Linked DNA regions of Homo sapiens: region 1 is linked to region 2. The links come from fine-mapping of genetic effects on plasma protein levels. Region 2 holds a variant in brackets. A gene starts in the other region. All regions are shown on their reverse strands. Region 1 holds the start of CBLIF (cobalamin binding intrinsic factor). Region 2 has its middle 70 kb from the start of MIR3144.

The links. PIP is the posterior inclusion probability: the model's chance that the variant is causal. The UK Biobank Pharma Proteomics Project read protein levels with antibody pairs (Olink). The fine-mapping took linkage between variants from a reference panel, not from the people measured, so its PIPs are less certain.
Region 1: it holds the start of CBLIF, and the variant in region 2 is fine-mapped to the plasma level of the CBLIF protein (UK Biobank, PIP above 0.99).

Annotation. Positions count from the first base shown.
Region 1 is chr11:59,838,819-59,849,846 of GRCh38, reverse strand. It overlaps CBLIF (cobalamin binding intrinsic factor), which reads left to right and starts at 4,348. Exons shown (of 9, transcript NM_005142.3): 1 at 4,348-4,472; 2 at 5,792-5,968; 3 at 6,706-6,819; 4 at 7,264-7,404; 5 at 8,523-8,704. The coding sequence starts at 4,394.
Region 2 is chr6:119,939,879-119,950,906 of GRCh38, reverse strand. No RefSeq gene overlaps it. Among named protein-coding and RNA genes, the nearest start is that of MIR3144, 70 kb to the left of the region's middle. The variant G/A (reference allele first, on the strand shown) is at 5,482.

The sequences.
Region 1 (11,028 bases), not on the chromosome of region 2:
TATTGGCAGGCAATTGTAATCCCAGCTACTCAGGAGGCTGAGGCAGGAGAATCACTTGAACCCGGGAGGCAGAGGTTGCAGTGAGCTGAGATCACACCATTGTACCCCAGCCTGGGCAACACAGCCAGACTCCATCTCAGAAAAACATAAAAATAAAAATAAAAATAAGAAACCTAATTGGCCACACTTGCCTTACAAGAAGCTCCTACAGCTTGAGACTATTACAGAACCTGAACTGAGTCTGAAGAGAGAAACTTCCTTTTGCTGCCACAGCAAAGAATAATCACCACAAATAAACCTCACTTATGTCCAGAGAGAGTCTAGGTGCTTTGATACCAAAATATTAGGCACAGGAGAAACAAGGAAATAAATGAACACATCATCCCAGTCAATAGTTAACCAAGGACTGTCAAAATATCCCTGTTAAGAAATGTATGGCCTGTGTGGTTCCTGTTCTGGGAATTATTTACTAACTGCAACAATTGTGTCACGATCAATCTTGCAGCAGCCCTGGTTGTAAATGGTAATTTATAATACAAGGAAGTGAGTGGTTAAAGAGCTGGCAGGCCAAGGGTGTGTGGATCATCTCAGGACGATCAGGAGCAGGCTCTGGAATGCAAAGTCAGCACCATACTGTACTCATAATCCTGTATTAGATTCTTATTGTTGCTGTAACAGATTACCACTAATTTTGTTATTTAAGACAAATTTATCATCTCACAGTTCTGGAAGTCAGAGTCTCACTGGGCTAAAATCAAGGTGTCGAAGGAGCTGTGTTCCTTCTAGAGGTGGCAGCAGTAAACCAAGTTCTTTCCCTACTTTGTATGGGTCACAAAGAAGGAACATGCAATTGGACAAAAGCAATTGGGTCGTATTCACTGGCCAGGGAATGGAGAAGGGGAGCTCTCGCTCTAAAGGCGCATTCTCCTTAAGCAATGGGAAGCAGGGAAATTTTCAAGAGTTAGACATGGGGCAGGGAGGTATGTAAGCAGGCCGAGGGTGGAGTTCCAAACACGCAGGCGCAGTCCCCAGACATACTTCTTCATACCTCGCATGTACACAAAATGGCAGCGATTTTCTTTTAAGGGAGAGGAATCTAGTATTATAATGATATGTTAATGATCTAAAAGTAACTAGGGGTTGCCGGTTCTGGTTTGCACCGGTCTGGTGCAGGTCTTATCTTCCTCTGGTATTTGGCAAGGGATCATGAAGCTCCTGAAGCATCCTGGGCCATCTGGAGCTCTTTAAGCAGTGGCATCTATAGATAAAAAGGCTAAGGGGACATCCCATTACTGGGTATATACCCAAAGGACTATAAATCATGCTGCTATAAAGACACATGCACACATATGTTTATTGTGGCACTATTCACAATAGCAAAGACTTGGAACCAACCCAAGTGTCCAACAATGATAGACTGGATTAAGAAAATGTGGCACATATACACCATGGAATACTATGCAGCCATAAAAAATGATGAGTTCATGTCCTTTGTAGGCACATGGATGAAATTGGAAATCATCATTCTCAGTAAACTATTGCAAGGACAAAAAACCAAACACCGCATGTTCTCACTCATAGATGGGAATTGAACAATGAGAACACATGGACACAGGAAGGGGAACATCACACTCTGGGGACTGTTGTGGGGTGGGGGGATGGGGGAGGGATAGCATTAGGAGATATACCTAATGCTAAATGATGAGTTAACGGGTGCAGCACGCCAGCATGGCACATGTATACACATGTAACTAACCTGCACATTGTGCACATGTACCCTAAAACTTAAAGTATAATTAAAAAAAAAAGAAAAAAAAGGAACAGGGACAATCTTAAAAAAAAAAAAAAGGCTAAGGGAAAACAACAGTTTAAGAAAATAAGAAGCCCTCCCAGCTATTTCCGTAGGGCTCCCCTAGTAACAGAGCTTGTGAAGAAGAATCCATTTCCTTGCCTTTTCCAGCTTCTGGAGGCTGCCCACGTTGCATGGCTCATGGCCCCTGTCCACCTACAAAGCCAGCAATTGCATCATTCTGACTTCTGCCTCTAACATCACATTTGCTTTTCTGATTCTAACGCTCTTGCCTTCCTCTGCCACTAACAAGGACCTCTGTGATGACATTGAGCCCACCCAGATGATCCAAGCTAACCTTCCTCTCTTAAAGTCAGCTCATTAGCCACCTTAATTCCATGTGCATCTTTAATTCTTCCTGGCCATATAACCCACGTAACATGTTCACAAGTTCCAGGGATTAGGGCATGGGCATTTGGCGGTGTGTGGGCAGTGCCATTATTCTGCCTCCTACTCCTTCACACAGCATGCAAGGCTGTCCACCAAGTAGATGCCAACTGTCTTTCCAGCCTCATCTTCCACCATGTACCATGTATTGGATATATATTGCTGCATAACAAGTGACTTTAAAACTTAGGGGCCTAAGACAACATTTATTATCCCACAGTTTCTGTGGGTCAGGAGTCCAGGGAGGGTTTACATGGGTCCTCTGGCTTAGGAGGGTCTCTCCCAGGGCTGCAATCAAGATGTCAGCTGGGGCTGCCTTCATCTCAAAGCTCACTGGGGAAGGGTTCTTTTCTCCCTGAATATCGGCTGGAGGCTACTCTCAGGGGCCATATGTGGGCTTCTCCATAAGGCAGCTCACACTTAGCAGCTGCCTTCATGAGAGCAGGAAGGGCAAGAGAGAGAAGGCAAGCAAGAGGGAAATCGGTCTTTTGCAACCACATCCCATCACCTTTGCTGCATTATATTCATTATAATAGAATGTGGCCCCAGGCCAGCCCACACTCTAGGGAAGAGGACTACACAAGGCATGAATACCGGGAGGTGAAAACACAGGGCCATGTTAGAAGTTGTCCAGCACACCCCAGTATGTACCCTGTGCTCTCATCTCACAAAACTCACCCATGTTTCCCAAGGGGGAAAAAATGCTTTATTACCCATGTCTTACATTTGCTCATTAATTCACTCATTCAAAAAGTATTTTATTTCTACTGTGAGCTAGGTAGTGTTGTAAGGGCTAAGGATAGAGCAGTGAGCCAAAGAGACAAAGCCCCTCCCTCGTGGAGCAGACATTCTAGTAGGGAGATAAACAAACGATAAACAACCACACACTTAGTGCGACAGAGGGCAATGAGTTATAGCAGGCGAGGGGCATGAGGGGTGTCAGTGGAGGTGAGGATGTAGGATCTTATGTAGGGTGGCCTGGGAAGGCGTCTCTAAAAGCTTACCTCTGAGCAGAGACATGAAGGATGTGAGGAAGCCACCATGAGGCTATTTAAAAGAAGAGGGTCCTGGGCTGAGGGGGACATCATGTGCAAAGGTAGCTGATGTGTTCAAGGGGCACAAGAAGTTCTGTGTGATGGGAGCGGTGTGAGCAAAGGGGAAAACGCCTGGAGCTGAGGTCAGAAAGGAAACCAGGAGCCAGATCTTCTAAGGTCTTATAGGTCATGAAAAGGGCTTTGACTTTTATGCTAAGATGGGCGCCACTGGAGAATATCCCCTTAAAATGAGCTACTTTACATGCAGGAAAAAAACAAACAAAACTCCTTTCTTTATAATTTCAACATACCATTTTCAGTTCTCCCTTATAAAGAAGTATAATTTGCATTATAATGTAGCTACACATCTGAAATATGTATTCTTAATGGATCTCACATTTTCTAATTACTTACTTTAAAAGATAATATCTGAAAGCTTTGGGTGTTTGAGATGGCTTTTATCTCCAGATAAGGAAAGAGAAATCAAACAAAACCATTTCTGGGAAACCGAGGTCCATTTCTTGCCTAAAGTCAAACAACTTCAAAGAGTCTAGGCTAGAATCCAGGTCCAGGTAGACATCATTAATTTCACAAAGCCAGATGTCACCTGGCAGATCCCTGCCTGAGAGCCTAAAAGGACATGTTGTAAAGCAGGTGTCTAGGATCATAAAATGAGCTGATGCCTATGAATGGCCTAAATCCCAGTGAAGTAGTTACTAAAAAGCAGCCTGGTAACTGATTGGATACAATAAGGGCTAGAAGAGGTCTTGTTGATACTAGCACATTATCCAAACTTCCTGATGTCTGACCCAGGCCTTTGGTAAAGGACATTTTCTCAACATTGCCTTCACTGCATACCCAGCCCCAGGTTTCTCATATGACTGTGCAACCTAGAAGTCACCTTCAGACACCTTGGAGGGTCTATAGTCGGTAAACTTAGATAAGCAAATGAAAATTTACTTACTTGTATCAGGAAAGGAGAGGTCAGCACAGGGGCAGTTAGGAGAGGCTGGGTTGGGGACAGATTATTTAACAAAGGGAAGCACATATAAGAGAAGGTAAAGAAATATTCCACTTGCAAATCGCGGTACCTGTGGATGAGAGACATAGACGAGAGAGTGAGATGGCCTGGTTTGCCCTCTACCTCCTGAGCCTTCTCTGGGCTACAGCTGGGACTAGTACCCAGACCCAGAGTTCATGCTGTGAGTATGATGTTTTTCCAAGGAGGTCAGGGAAGCAGTTGCCCTGGGGAAGGGGCTGTGACCTCTGACACTGAGTGGTTGAAAATAGCAATCACTATAGGAATTCCAAAATGGGTAAGTCTGAGTGTGATTGTGTGCTGTTCATCCTTCCTGACTTAATAGCATAAGTTCTTTGAGAGACAAGTCTATATGTTTTTTATTAAGAGAGATGGGGCCAGGTGCAGTGGCTCACACCTGTAATCCCAGCACTTTGGGAGACTGAAGCAGGAGGATTGCTTGAGCCCAAGAGTTCAAGACCAGCCTGGGCAACATGGTGAGACTCCATCTCTACAAAAAAAATAAATAAATAAAAATAAAAAATTAGCTGGGCGCAGTGGCATGCACCTGTGGTCCCAGCTACTCAGAAAGCTGAGGTAGGAGAATCGCTTGAGCCCAGGAGGTCGAGGCTGCAGTGAGCTATAATCACACCACTGCACTCCAGCCTAGATGACACAGCAGCACCCTGTCTCAAAAAATCAATAAATAAAAATAATAGAGATGGAAGTACTACTGCAGGAATAATGGTTGATGGTACAAAGACAGACACTCAGTGGCTATTGTGACCAGACACCACTACATACTAGTGAGAGATTTTGGTACTCACTGAGGATAAATTATATCCCAAATCTTTAATACTCTTCATGAAAGAGTAAGGAAAAAAATGAATGCAAGGAAATCAGTGATTTCCAGGAAAGTGATAGAAACTATGAGAAATGTCATGAGCCATATTGCTTGAAGTTACTAAATTTAAAAATCACTTTCTTAAGGATATGGATTATTTGAGAAGATGTAGAAACTAATTGTCCTCAAAAGTAAAATCTCACCATTTTCTCCATTTCTCTTTAGTGACTTAGGACACTAATGCTAATCAAGTGTTCTCCTAAAAGGCATCAAAGATGGCCAGGCGAGGTGGCTCACGCCTGTAATCCCAGCACTTTGGGAGGCCAAGAAGGGTGGATTACCTGAGGTCAGAAATTCGAGACTACCCTGGCCAACATGGTGAAACCCCATCTCTACTAAAAATACAAAAATTAGCCTGGCGTGGTGGTGCACACCTGTAATCCCAGCTACTCAGGAAGCTGAGGCAGGAGAATCACTTGAACCTGGGAGGCAGAGTTTGCAGTGAGCCGAGATCGTGCCATTGCACTCTAGCCTGGGCAACAAGAGTAACACTGTCTCAAAAAAAAAAGAAAGAAAGAAAAAGCATCAAAGACACGGGGATAATGTTTTTGAGAAGGAATGAGGGTTAGAAGGTGAGTAAATGGCTTTCCTCTTCTCAGCCGTTCCCTCAGCACAGGAGCCCTTGGTCAATGGAATACAAGTACTCATGGAGAACTCGGTGACTTCATCAGCCTACCCAAACCCCAGCATCCTGATTGCCATGAATCTGGCCGGAGCCTACAACTTGAAGGCCCAGAAGCTCCTGACTTACCAGCTCATGTCCAGCGACAACAACGGTGAGACATCTGAGCCGCTCGCACTCTCCCTGAATCTCACACATCACATACCACCTCCAGATTCCAACTCAGCGTCCTTCCCACCCCAATGCTGCCTCTGACTGTAAATAAACTACCCAAACACCTTTCCTTACATACCTGGAAGGTACCTGGAAAGAAACATGTGTGAAGTCAGAGCATTCATGGAGGAGGTCAGTAAAGCAGGGAGAGCTCTGGACTAGACGTCGAAAGAGCAGCCTTCTGGTTCTGGCTCTGCCACGTCATAACTCTGGGATCTGAGACAAGTCACTGGATACTGCTCAGCCTCACCTTGCAGATGATTGTAGTAACAATAACCCTACTACTACTAATAGCAATGATAATAATAATAAAATCTCTGTTCTGCCTATCTCCCAGGAGCTGCCTGCAGGCTCAAGTTAGATAAAGTTTAAATTATTTTGCAACTGTAAATTTCTGTATATAAATCTATATGAGTATTTTGCTGCTTTTCTAATCAAATACCAGGGATTCTCAAATACCAAATACTAGAGTCATCAAGTTACACAGAGGCCACTAGATTAAATATTCCCTTACGTATTCTTCCATATTTTTTTCTTTGGAAAGACAGATCAAAGAACTGCTCATATTATTAAAAAGTCAAAATGCTCTAGATAAAAAGCAGAGAACTCATCACTGGCTCCTGGAGAGCTGTCCCCTGAGGATGTCTCTGTCTAACCGTTGTGTTCTCTTCTCTGCAGATCTAACCATTGGGCAGCTCGGCCTCACCATCATGGCCCTCACCTCCTCCTGCCGAGACCCTGGGGATAAAGTATCCATTCTACAAAGACAAATGGAGAACTGGGCACCTTCCAGTAAGACCTGACTGGAAGGGAGAAAAGAGTCAGGCATATGGTTTTACCTAAGAATTTTAAACCCAGAAAGGAAAAGGGTGGGGGTGGAGAGAAAGGCAAGTTAGGGAAGAGACAATGTATCCTTCACTCTGGTCCTTCTGATAATCCAGACCAGAAAGATTCATTTCCAATCCAAAATGAACTAGAAAAGGTCATGATCCCAAGGACACAAGCTTGTCCAGCCATCACCTGTCTAAAGACACAGAGTCATCCCTTTTATTCTTTGCAGATGCCTGATGACATTCTTTTGAAAAACACTGAAGTTGCTCTTTGCCTATGCTGTGTCTCTCTTTGGGGGCAGGTTTTCTAGCAATTTCCTTTTCAAAGGCTTGGCTTTTCCTTCTTTGCAAATGTCCTCATCGTGGTGACTGTGAGTCTGATGAAGGTTCTCTATCCCCTTCGGAGGCCCCAACGCTGAAGCATCAGCCTTCTATGGGCCCAGTCTAGCGATCTTGGCACTGTGCCAGAAGAACTCTGAGGCGACCTTGCCGATAGCCGTCCGCTTTGCCAAGACCCTGCTGGCCAACTCCTCTCCCTTCAATGTAGGTGAGTAGGTCACCACTACCCCGAGCTGGGAACATCAGAGGCATCGTGAACTGAATGGTGGAGCTGGCAGGGAAGTGACAAAGGAGAGCGTCCCATGGAGGAGGAGCTAAGGATGTGAACGTGCCTGTGGATGGGAGATATTTACCAGATGTTTGTTGGGCAGGTGAATTGAGGAGTAAGTGAAGGAAGAGGGGGTAGTATTATGTAGAAACAAGGACAATTGATAATACTTGATATGTCTGGCAGCTACAGAATCTCCGCTGGGAACAATAGTAATGCCATTCAAGTCAGAAGTTCTTCCCAAATTAAATATGAATGTCTTGCTTCAGTTCTCCTCTGCATCCTCTCTTTAATCACTACTGATGCTCCCACACTCCATTCTTTTCGATGCTTCTCCTCATTACATCCAAATATCCTCTCTCCATTAAACAGCTACTCTCGGAACCCTAACTCGTGATATTTCCCTTCATGGCAACTCGGGGACCACCTTGCGTCTTTGTTCTGCAAGCATATGGCTGCTTGTGAATAGAAGCTTTTCCCTCTACAACATCATGTCCTCCTTCTGTCCCCTTCTATGGATAATGATCCTTCTCTGTGGGGGCCACTGTCACAGCCCGCATTCATGATCACCTTTTCTCCTCTGCCAACTCTCTAAGCAATAGTATTATCTCAGGTTTTCACTCCCTTATGCATGCCCCATCAGCAACCTCTCTTGTTTCAGTTTCTGTCAGACAAACAGGTGAACCACTGCTCTAGGATCCTCCCTGGGGGTTAAGAACAGACTGGTCTCCCTTTCACATCTGGGACCTCACACATTTCTGGGGCATCTCTGCCTCCAAAAATTTGGACTTATTTACTTCTGGTTGTCAGTAACACTAGCACCCTTAACGAAGTTATGCAACTTTCAAATGGAGATTTGGCCCTGCTGCTTACTTAATTTTTCTGAGCCTCCATTTTTTGTCTCTTAAATGGAGATGATTACAGGTACTGTTTCACAGGTTGTTCTGAGGAGCAAATAAAATCATGGAGCCAGAATATAATAAGCACACAATAAATGTTAGCTGTTCATATTGCTGTGATGGTGACTATGGTGATCTTATACCCTCTGTCATTCACAGACACAGGAGCAATGGCAACCTTGGCTCTGACCTGTATGTACAACAAGATCCCTGTAGGTTCAGAGGAAGGTTACAGATCCCTGTTTGGTCAGGTACTAAAGGATATTGTGGAGAAAATCAGCATGAAGATCAAAGATAATGGCATCATTGGAGACATCTACAGTACTGGCCTCGCCATGCAGGTAAACACGTGCTGGATGCTCTTGGTTGGGTTCCTGCCAATAAGCCTGGATTGCAGAATCAAGAGGCCAGGCTTCTACTAACATCTCTGTGAAAGTCCAGCTAGTATGACCTGAGATATATTCTTTGTGGTGCCTGGGCCTCAGTTTCTCTACTGGTAAAATGCAGGTAAGTGTTAATTCCTCCCTACCTCCTATGTAAAGTGTGAAAACAAATCTATATGAACTTGTTTCTCTTTCTTGGGAAAAAAAATGAAACAAATAAATCAAGAAATATATTAATTTATTATTAATAATGATCAGTTTATTTGTAATAGTTACAGACTATTACAATTTTGATGTATAAATAATAAGAATATTAAAGCAGGCCCTCTAAAAATATACAATTTTCTGATGCAATCTTACCAGCCAAGTGTTCTTTTTCAGTGTTTTACCTTGATCTAAAAATAGCAAGTTTATACTCAAAATGATTAAGGAAAATAACCTAAAGTTGACCCAGCCTCACAAAAACCCATAGTAAATGGTAAAGCAGATCTATCTGTCAGCCAAGTCCATATTCAATTCTGTGCTTTCACAGCATGCATTCCCAGGCTTGGATTCTGTAAGATGTGTTTGGTATTCATAGTTCCAAATCCAACAACCCACCCTACCCTAGTTGATTAGGGCAGCAGCCTCCATAGAAGACAGATGCACCAATGGTGGTGGGCAGAAATAACCAACTAGAATCAGAAACTAGCAACCATCTGTGGCTGAATCCTCTAATCCCAACTAAGAAGTTTGAGCTCCAGTGTCTCAAAATGTCCTATGGGGATTAATAGGACCAGGGACTCTTCAACTCAGAAAGCCCACTAAAGGGAGAATCATGGAATGGTGATGCCAGCCCTAAACCTAACATAGTTGCGGACTATTAGAAAGAAATTGTCTCCTGGGGAAAACAATGGAGACTAGTATTGAGATTTCATACATTAAAAATTAGAAAAGGATATAAGCAGCCTAAGAATTGGTTCATGTTAAACATAAGAGCAAAAAAAAAAAAATTTCCACTTCAATGGACCACATATAGAAGTGACTAATAAAAATAGAGTTCATTTCTATGTCACAGTCAAGGAGACTTTGTCATAGAACAAAACCCTGTTTTTTCCATGGCTGAATTTTACAAGAACATTCCCAGTGCTCTGGTCTAGAAGCTTTTTGGAAAGAAAAAGGCAGTCTGGAAGAGATATAAAAGATGGTTTGGGGATTTTTTTTTTTTATGTGTGACTCTCTAAAAATAACCTTGCTTCAATTTATCACCAGACAGTGAAGTGTTTACTTTTGCTAACTTGGTTTGTGAATTCTGTTTGGATTTTATCACCTGCCAAGTACACTTTGATAAGCTGTACCTGGGAATTAGAGCTTTTCCTATCAAAAGGCAGGACCCTGTCTACATCCAAATACCACAGGCCATGTGGATTTCTTGTCAGAATACATAATCTCTCCCTACCCTTTTTACTGCCTCTATCTGGAACTTATTTAGGCATCCTGAAATCTGGAATCAATAGGTGTCTAATATATAATATTTTCCTAATCTAAAATATTCTGATATAGAAAATCAAAGGGCTCTGGAACTATCACAATTTAGGTTTGACTCCCACACCTGCCACCATCTCAGACAAATATTGAATTTCCCCAGATTTTATTTTCCCCATAATAATAAGGTTGCAATTAGGTTAAATAAAATGTGGTATGCAAAAAAATGCATGCATAATGTAATGCTTAACAATTGTTCAAGATCTGTCTCAGCAGAGCAGTGATGCTAGTAAAGTTCCTTTTCAGCCTTTGTTCACCTTCTTCCAAGATGTCAGTACACTTCCAGTGGCCCAGGCCACACTCTTCCCTACCCAAAGACGCTCATGAGGCATTTCCTCTGTTCCAGAACTTCTCATCTTTCTTCCATGAATATCCTATTGCTTTCAAGTTTCCTCTGATAGGCGCTTATCTTGAAAAGGGATCTGATAGGCCAGGCGTGATGGCTCACACCTGTAATCCCAGCACTTTGGGAGGACGAGGCGGGCAGATCACTTGGGGTCAGGAGTTCAAGACCAGCCTGGCCAATATGGTGAAACCCCATCTCTACTAAAAATACAAAAATTAGCCTGGTGTGCTGGCAGGCACCTATAATCCCAGCTGCTCAGGAGGCTGAGGCAGGAGAATCACTTGAACCCGGGAGACGGAGGTTGCAGTGAGCCAAGATTGCACCAATGCACTCCAGCCTGGGCATCACAGCGAGACTCCATCTCAAAAAAAAAAAAAAAAAAGAAAGAAAGAAAAGAAAAAGAGAACTGATA
Region 2 (11,028 bases):
CTGCCACACCCTAATCCCAGTTCTTGTTCAAATAAAATGTTATTTGTAAAAGCAGGAGTCACACATGGCCATTACTTGACAATTTAATTTTTAAAATATTTTAAAATATATCACACCACTTAAACATAATTCAATGTATTCACATATATATGTTATTTACATATTTACATTTACCTATAAAATTTGTCTTGATTCCTGTTTTTTGGCACCCCTTCAATTTTGCACTGCAAAATTTGCTTTAATCTGGTTCCACATCTAGAGAGAAATAAAAAACTCTGCTTGCCTTTCTTGAGAATTAATTCTCAGAAACTTTTTTTAATGTAAGCAAGAAAGAGAAAAAAAATATTACTTCAGCAGAACAATGTAACATGAAAGCCTACAGTTACCAGAAACTGAACTATACACTATACACATCTTTACACTGAACTGTACGCTACACACATCTAAACTCACTTTGCCATGGTAAGAGTCTATCATCACCCAAGTACATGAAGAGGCTCTAAAAACAATTATAGCAACCTATTTTTAACAAATGCTCGATATAACACTTATCTTCTTTCACATATGAATAATTAAACTAGTCTGGAAACTATTAAAGAGCGTAGTGCAAAAAAAAGTAGCATTATTATTCCAGATGAGAACTAATCTCTTGAAAATTAGCATAAGAAATGAATATTTTTCAAATATCTGCCTCAAGTCTTCAAACAAGTCAGAAATAAATGCAATTATAAGCCAATATTAAAATATTATAAGTAGTCCAGATGAAGGCAGTTAGCTAATGTGAAAGGTAAAATAAAATAGCAAGATAAAAAATAATTTTAAGATCATGAAAATCTAGTAGGTTAATTAAAACCTACTGTAAAAATAATTTAAAGATCAGGCATTACCCAGAAAATTAACTTTTAATTTTTTAATGTCGTAAAATGACCAGCATCAATGTTCTTTCAAATTTCAGAAGAAAAAAAATAAAAGAACAAAGATATGGCAATGCTAAGAAGATTTAACAGATATAGAGAAAGGAGAAGAATTTTTTCTTTTTCAAATATAGAGATTCTAGCAGAAAAAAAAAATCCCAATAAATTAAGCTAAATCTATAAGCAAATTTATGGGAAATAAAATCTATCACAATTTAAAAACATGAACTAAACATGCAGCTCGAAAATAGTTCATAAGATCTAAAATAAATGAACACTTGGACACAGGAAGGGGAACATCACACACCAGGGCCTATCGTGGGGTCGGGGGAGGGGGGAGGGAAAGCATTAGGAGATATACCTAATGTAAATGACGAGTTAATGGGTGCAGCACACCAACATGGCACATGTATACATGTGTAACAAACCTGCACATTGTGCGCATGTACCCTAGAACTTAAAGTATAATTAAAAAAGAAAAAGAAAATGGAAGTATCTTGGCAAATTTTTACATTTTACATTTTAAGGAAAATTGTTTGTGTGTGTGTGTGTGTGTGTGTGTGTGTGTGTATATACACACATATATAATTTATATGTATGGAATTAAATCAGGCTAACAATTAGAAATGTGTAAGAGTTGCTTAAAGAATGCCGTGAACTCTTTACTGTGGAATGAAAGAAAATGTAAATAAAAGAAAGGTATATAGTTCTAAAGTGAAATATAAATATTATAATAGCAGAATTTTTTCCTAATATATGGACAATGAAATTTCCAGCAAAATCTCGAAGGAGATATTCTCAAATTGATCAAGTGATTTAAAATACCATAAGGAAGAATGAATACATTAAAATGGCTATGAAACTAATTTAAGAATAAAATAATAAACACCATTGTCAAATATTCCATATATTTAGAAGATTTAATGATATTTTATGTGATAAAAATTCAGATGAATGAAGAAATCAATTATAATAGGAAACAAATGTAAGGTATATGTTAAAGTTTAATATATAAAGGAATGAGAATTTTTATCTTAAGTATCAAATGATTTGTTAAAAGTCACTTAGAAAAATAGTTACTTTAAACAAATATATCAAGTATAATTGTATCTTTCAAGATATCTCCAGATCAATTTATTTAAAAAATTAAGAGTAAAGAGGATGAGAAAAATAGATAAAAATCAAATGACTAGACTTAAAATAGGATAATATAACTGTAAACCTATCAGAAAGGCAGGGAAAAAAATGAAGTCAAAGAACAGTGTCAAGAAGCTAAAAAACAAAGTACAAAAAGAAAAAACTTGCACAAAATAAAAAGGATCCCCTGTGCACAGAATTTCATCTCTTTCAACCATACAGGGAAAATTTTGAAAGCAAAACAAAAGAAAACAAAAAAACAACCAAAAAGAAAACCTGTAGAGTTTTTCTCCAGTGAAATCACGGAATCTTTTTGCGAAGAACTAGAAAGTCTCAGAGTCATTTGTCCCCACAGCAAAAGCTCTCCACGTTATGTAATTTAGGAAGATTCAGTCCAATGCACACTCCCCACACCTCAGCTTAGGGAAGCTAGCCTTAATGCCTTTAGCAATTAGGAAGTAATAAAATAAAATAAAATAAACTGGGCTATCTTATTTGTAAGTATGTTTCATAACAGAAGCATATAGGACTTAAGTTACTAATTAAACCTGTCATTGAAAACACAGACATTAAATATACATTAATATATATTTTTGTACTGTGTTACTCCCTCTGTACAGAACAGGAGAGCCGGAATGTTTTCCTCCGCCCCAAAATTTCGATAATGAATTTTGGTTTTTGGAAAATACATATGTAATAGAGAATTTGGGCTTATACTCTTACCTAGGAGCAATATTTCATATCATTCATTATCAAAAACCTGAACAGAATCTTTGCAATATCTTAAAGTAATTCTAAGATATTGGTAAAATGCTGGTATTCTGTTGTTGTCATATTTGTTTTACATTACCATATGCACTGTAATTCAATAACATCTTTTCCTAAATCTTTGTTGCCACTATCAGGTTTGATGGAGAAAGGCAAACTCAATAATAGTTCCACTACGTAATGGTTTATATCAGAAACACATTTTTGAATTCAGTATTTACAGTACATTACAGGAAAAATATTTTAGGAAATCATGTTCATTTAAGAAAAAAATGTCAGCATAGACAAATGAGCCAAATGAGTTTCCCGTATAAGGGCACATACCACATAACATTATTTCAAGTCAACGACAGATCACACATACAGTGGTATTCCCATAAGATTATAATGGAGCTGAAAAATTCCTATCATCTAGTAATGTAGTAGTTATAACAATGTAGGGCAACACATTATTTGCATGTTCATAGTGATGCTGGTCTAAACAAACCTATGTGCTGCCAGTTGTATAAAAGTATAACACGTATGGTTAAGTACAGTACATAATACTTGATAATGATAACAAATGATTGTTATTGGTTTCCGTATTTACTAAACTTTTTATCATTATTTTGGAGCATACTGCTTCATCTTGCTATAAAAATTTAAGTATAAAACAGCCTCACGCAGGTCCTTCAGGAGACATTTCAGAAGAAGGCACCGTTATCATAGGAGATGACAGCCCCATGCATGTTCTTGTTCCTGGAGACCTTCCAGGGGGACAAGAGGTGGATGTGGAAGACAGTGATATTGATGATCCTGACCCTGTGTAGAATCTAATGTGTGTGTTTTTACCTCAGTTTTTAACAAAAGAAGTGTAAAAAAAAAGTTAAAAATGAAAAAAGCTTATAGAATAAAATATAAGGAATACCTTTTTGTACAACTGTATAAATGTATTTATATTTTAAGCCAAATGGTATTACAAAAGAGTTTAAAAAATAAAAGTTTATAAAGTGAAAGAGTACAATAAGCTAAGATTAATTTATTTTAAAGAAAAAAATATTTTGAATTAATTTAATATAGCCTAAATGTACAGTGTTTATAAAGTCTACACTCATGTATAGTAATGTCCTTGGCCTTCATGTTCACACATCACTCAGTCACCCAAACCAACTTCCTGTCCTGCAAGTACCCTTCATGGTAAGTGCCCTATACAGGTGTATCATTTTTTATCTTTTATACCACATTTTTACTGTTCCTTTTTATGGTTAGATGTTTTTAGATATACAAATACTTACCATTGTGTTACAATTGCCTACAGTATTCAGTACAGTAACATGCTGTACAGGTTTATAGCCTAGAAGCCATGGGCTATACCATATAGTCTAGATGTGTAGTAGGCTACACCTTCTAGGTGTATGTAAGTAACACCCTATAATGTTTGTACAAGGACAAAATCACCTAATGATAGATTTCTCCAAATGTATCTGCACCATAAGTGACACATGACTGTATATTTATTTGCCAGGGCAATCAAATTGATTTATACACTTATATGAATGCATGTGCACACACTTGCAGAGAAATTATATTTGGAAGAATATTTTAACTATGTGGGATAATGTCAACCAAAAGGTCAGTTACGTAATTCAACATTTGCTGGGTGATCTGGGGTAAGAATTTTGCTGTGGATGATATGAATATGTTGATTTCTTTCAACAGCATAAAATTTTCTTTAACTCTATATCCTTGCCAAGCTAAATAATTTCTTATTGTGTGTCTCGTCAGCTCAGCAAAACCTTGAGCAGACTAAGGTTTTAGATCTAAAAACATACCAAATTCTCTTCGTTCATTTAGTCATCCAACAAATAGTTATTGAGAACCTTTGATGTTAGAGACACTTTTCAAAACTCTGGGATTGAAAATAAAACAAACAAACAAATGAAACAGAATACAAAAACAATATGCCCTGTCCTCATGGAATTTACTTTCCAAGCATATATGTGGGTTTGAGTGTGTTGGGAGGATGGGGGCAGAAAATAATTTATATGGACAATAAGATGTATAGCTGTGAAGAAAAAGAAAAGCAGAAAATCAATATAAGGTGTGGTTTAGCAGGTGGCAGGGATGGGGGATTCTGTGTTAAATACGCTGGCTAGAGAAGACACCACTGAGAAATAAACTGGGAAATATCCAAATGGAGTGAAAGATCCAGTCCTTCAACTCTTTGTGAGAGAATTTTGAAAGCAGAGGGAAGAGCAAGTACAATGGCTCTAAGGCACAGAGCTGTTGTACATGTGGCCCGTAAAATGTCCAAAATGGATAAAGCAAAGGGGAGAGCATTAGAAGATGAGGTCAAAGTAGTCTGTTGGGGGTGGGGGCTGAATGGCATTGACTTTGTTGTGTGTAAGTCATGGGAAGGACTTGGATTTACTCTGAAATATAAAGACTTTTAAAATTTTAAGAAGAATTTCAGTTTATTATATGTTCTGTTCTCAAACTTTTTTTGACAAAACTATTTCTGGAAAATAATGTAACGTAAAAACATAAATTCCATATCTGCAAAATGTTATCTTTTTAAAAAGTCTAACATTGATCACCAGTTAAGTATTATCTATAAATACACTAGTTAATTTTGATCAATTTGCTTTAAAGTTTTCTCAACGCTAAAGATTAAGTAATTTGG[G/A]GCCTGTCATGGCTACCATCTCCAAATATTATTTAAACATACAAAAAATGTCAGTGATGATAAGTAGATACATTTAAATGGTTGGCATTGGCCAGGCGTGGTGGCTCATGCCTGTAATCCCAGCACTTTGGGAGGCCAAGGCGGGCGGATCATGAGGTCAGGAGTTTGAGACCAGCCTGGCCAACATGGCAAAACCCCGGCTCTACTAAAAATACAAAAATTAGCCAGGTGTGGTGGCATGAGCCTGTAGTCCCAGCTACTTGGGAGACTGAGGCAGGAGAATCACTTGAACCAGGAGGCAGAGGCTGCAGTACGCCAGGACCACGTCATTGCACTCCAGCCTGGGTGACAGAGTGAGACTCCGTCTCGAAAAAATAAATAAATGAATAAATAAATAAAAATAAAAATAAATAAATAAATAGTTGGCATTATTTATAGCTGTGTTATCATCAGCTACAAAACACAATGCCACAAATGACTTATTTTTTTCTCCCAGCACAGCCTGTAAATTCTTAGCCAAATCTCCAGTGTTAGTTACATTTTCAATGTTTGTTTCTGTTGAGGACATATAATTTCTATTGCCTCCAATGGATACTCTTTTATAAAACTACCATCTGTAATAAAAATGCCATCTGGGCAATTTTGTAACGAATTCATAGTAACATATTATAACAACATAACTTATTTTATATGTATTCAAAAATTAAGCCTGTGGAAATTTTAGTTCATATTTTAGTTCATTAAGATTTTTATCACGAATCTTTCCATAGATTCATGATAAGCTTTGTTTTTAGTGTGTGTGTGTGTGTGTGTGTGTATGTGTATAGGCACCTTCCAACATTTTGTTAACAGTATAAATATGTAAAAAAAAATAGTTTAAGAAATAATTGTTCTTTTTGGAAACAAATTGTGCTTTTTCTCTTTCTTGTGAACACGTTGAAAGATACACAATTGAAGGATGTCTGTCTCCAACTGGAAAAAAAAATAGCGCAAGCATGATGATGCATAGCAACCGATACTTGGGTTTAGGGTCAGGAAGACCAAAGGGCACACAAAGGACAGTGGCAATCTGGAGCACGTATATCCCATCTAAAAGCAGAAGCAACTACTTACTTTCTGACAATTGTTTTCATTCATAAATGCAAGTTCAGTTTACCAACTCTTCCACTTTGCAAAAAAAGTAAGCAATCTATATTTTTAGATAAAATCTACCAATTGTAATATATCTGAATAATTATTTTCAAAACATTGTACAGGCTAGGCAAGCTATGTCTGCAAGAGGTGTTTAGGCTGTTAGTAACCACTTTGTGATGCTCTAAAAGTTACAGCATCCACCTGATAAGATTTACAAAAGGAGAGAATACAGATAATATGGGAAAAGGAATGTTCAAGGAAACAAAAAGGAAAATTTCACAGACATCAAAAACATATGATTTATATCCAAAAGGGCCTGCATTTTAGAAGCAAAGTAAGAAAAATAATAGCAAAAACAAATTCTACATTAAAAAACAGAACAAACATGTAGACAAAATACTAAACAGCTTCCAGAGAAAATTGGAGGATAAAAGATTACATGCAAAAAATTATAATCAGATGGACCACAGTGTTGTCATTGACAACACTGGAAACAAGAAGACAAAGAATAAAAGTGTAAAATTTTAACAGAAACAATTTTAAGCAAGAATTCAGAAGAAGCATTATTTTCAGATAAGTGGGTTAACAAACATTACCACAAATTGGCCAGGTGAGGTGGCTCACGCCTGTAATCCCAGCACTTTGGGAGGCTGAGGCAGGCGGATCGTGGTCAGGAGATCAAGACCATCCTGGCCAACATGGTGAAACCCCGTCTCTACTAAAAATACGAAAAATTAGCCAGGCGTAGTGGTGGGCACCTGTAGTCCCAGCTACTCGGGAGGCGGAGGCAGGAGAATTGCTTGCACCCACGAGGCAGAGGTTGCGGTGAGCTGAGATTGTGCCACTGCACTCCAGCCTAGATGACAGAGCAAGGCTCTGTCTCAAAAAACAAAAAAAAAAGAAAAGAAAAAAGAAACGTTACCACAAATTGATTAATTTAAAAGCAAAAAAAAGTGGACATTTTCAAACAAGAAAATAATTTGGATTATACAAAACTGATACAAAAATTAGTAAGGTGTTTTTGTTTTTCGTCTCTTTTGATTTGTTTTGTTTTTCCCGAGATGGCAAATCAGAGTTTTTTAGCATGTCTCAGCCACTTGGAAATAGCAAGACAGCACACAAAGGTCAACTCTCTGAGCTTTAATTCAAGAAGGAAGATGGAAACCTATCAGAATCGTGAAGGACACCCTAGATCCTCCTTTGTATGGTGTGTGGCTCATAAAAGTTAGTAAAGTTCGAGTATGTGAGAGGCAGAGAGCCTCCCTCTGTGACTCACCTTCCCACTGTGGATCCAACAACCCAGGCCAAGAGAGAGCACTTTATTTCTCCCAAACTCCAGACCTAACTTGGGGAAAGGTTTGGAGGCTCTGAGAGAGAAAGAAGTTACAGGCAATTTCCCAGACCTGGGACTGAGAGCAGGATCGCATTTTAAATCCAGGTGCATACAAAGTTATGGCAACTCAGAAGCATAGCTGTGCAGGCATTTTTGCCTTGGAGCAGAGATTGGAGCACTTGTTCTGGAGAAGCATAGAGGCTTCCACAGCCAGAATTATGTAAAGTACGTCAGCAGTAGGTACTGGAACTGTGCTCTCCTCAGTTACAGGCCTGGTGTGGGAGAAGAGTTGCTATGCTTGAAATTTCTTTTGGGAGATGAGACTTGCAGCCAGGACCAGTTTGATGCCTGGAACCGGTCTGCATGTGTCATTGCTAATTGCTGCAGCCTGCTTCCTGAGATTGTGTGGCTTCCTAGCCACACACCTAGGCATACCTCTGGGTGCTGGGTGACCACTCACTGGATTCTCCCCTGGCATTAGTGCTTGTGCCTGCCATCAGGGGAACTATAGGTGGGCCTGCCCAGTCTGTCTCTAACCATTCTGCCCCCTGCTGCCCTAGGATTTAGCAGGGAGCTCAGACCACTGTGAACTCCATGGTCAGCCCATTGCTTGGGACAACAGAGAGCGTCTTCCAGTAAACAAGGATGAATTATATACCCAGCCAGGTTATCCACAGCTGGCTGTTACCCATATGCACCATCTACTGGTTTGTAAGTCAAAGAACACAGCCCAGTATAAAACCTGCTGACAGAAGTGCATAGGGCTGTAGAAGCAAAGCCAAAATACCCAACCTAACATTTGCTACTTTCACACTCACTAGGAAGAAGGGGAAAGGGAAAGGGAAAGAAAAAAATGACATTATAAAGTGGCTCACACCTGTAATCTGAGCACTTTGTGAGGCTGAGGTTGGAGAATCTCTTGAGCCCGGGAGTTCAAGACCAGCCTGGGAAAAAGTAAAACGTTGCCTCTCCCCTGCTCCCCCCACCAAAAAATAGCCAGGTATGGTGGTGTGTACCTGTAGTCTCAGCTACTAGGGAAGCTGGGGTGGGAGGATCAGTTGAGCCAAAGATGTGGAGGATGTAGTAAGGCATAATCACACCACTGCATTCCAGCCTGGGTGACAGAGCAGAACTATGTCTAAAGGAGAGAGAGAGAAAGATTGAATTCTGCCCACATGAAAATAATTACAAAAATTAGAAGTGCCAGGATCTCCAGATAAGAAGGAACCAGGGCAAGAATTCTGGCACCATGAAAAATGAGAATGTAGTGACAACACTGAAGCATCACATTGACTCTCCACAATGGTCCCTAATGAAATTGGAAACTGAGAAATGACAGATAAAGAATTCAAAGCATAGATTGCAAGGAAGCTAAACAAGATCCAAGATAATGTTGAGAATCAACACAAAGAAACCTCTAAATCAATCCAGAAAATTAAGAAAGAGATATACATCTTAAAAAGAAATCAATCAGAGTTTCTGGAATTGAAAAAAAGTTACTTCAGGGATTTCAAAATATAATTGGAAGCTTTATCAAGACACTGGACCAAGAAAAAGAATTTTAGAACTTGAAGACCAGTCTTTTGAACTATTCCAGTCATACAAAAATGAACAAAGTCTTAAAGAAATATGGGATTGCATAAGCAACAAAACCTATGAATTCTTGGCATTTCTGAGAGAGAGAAAAAAGTAACAACCTGAATAACATATTGGAAGGAATAGCTCAAGAAAATCTCCCTAATCTTGCAAAAGAGTAGCTCAAGAAAATCTCCCTAATCTTGCAAAAGAGTAGACATCCACATACAAGAAATCCAGAGCACACCTGTTAGATGTTATGCAAAATAAACATGACCAAGGTATATAGTAGCCAGATATTCAAGGTCAATATTAATGAAAAAAATCTTAAAGGCAGCTAGAGAAAAAGATCAGATCACATAAAAAGGGAACTTCACAAAGCTAACAGCAGGCTCCTCAGCAGCAAACTTACAAGCTAGAAGAGGATAGGAGCCTATTTTAAGCATTCTCAAAGAAAAGAAATTCCAAAAAATAATTACATATCCCACAAAACTGAGCTGCATAAGGCAAAGGAGAAATAATTTTCCAGACAAGCCAACATTCAGGGAATTCATTACCACTAGATCAGCCTTAAAAGAGATTCTTAAGGGAGCTCTAAACATGGGAATGAAAGAATGATGACTGCTACCACAAAATCATACTTAATTTTAGAGCCCACAGACCGTAAAAAGCAACCACAAAGTAGAAACTACAAAGCAATCAGCTAACAACTTCAAAGTACAAAAACCTCATATTTCAATATTAACCTTGAATGTAAATTGTCCAAACACAGAGTTAAAAGGCACAGAGTTGCAAGTTGGATTAAACAAACAAACAAAAAAAACAAGACCCATCCATCTGCTGTCTTCAAGAGACCCTTCTCACAAGCAGCGACAACCATAGGCTCAAAGTAAAGGGTTGGAGAAAGATCTGTCAAGCAAAATGGAAAACAAATAAAGAGCAGTGGTCACTATTCTTACATCAGATAAAACAGACTTTAAACCAACAACAGTAAAAAAAGGACAAAGAAGTATTATTGTATAATAATAAAAGGTTGAATTCAACAGGAATCGTTAACTGTCTTCAATATATATGCACTCAACATTGGAGAACCGATTCATAAACCAATGACTTCTAGACTATGAAAAGACTTAGACAGCAACACAATAATACTGGTAGACTTCAATACTCTACTGGTTGCGTTAGACAGATCACTGAGACAGAAAGCTAAGAAAGAAATTCAGGACTTAAATTCCACTTGAACAATTGGACCTAATAGACATTTACACAATAATCCACCCATCAACCACAGAATAAACATTCTTCTCATTTGCACATGAAACATACTCCATGACTGACCACATGCTTAACCATAAAGCAAATCCTAATAAATTACAAAAAAATAAAATCATACAAACTATACTCTGAAACCACACTGGAATAAAAATACAAGTCAATACCAAGAAGATCTCTAAAAGCCACAAAATTATATGGAAATTGAACAATTTGCTTCTGAATGACTTTTG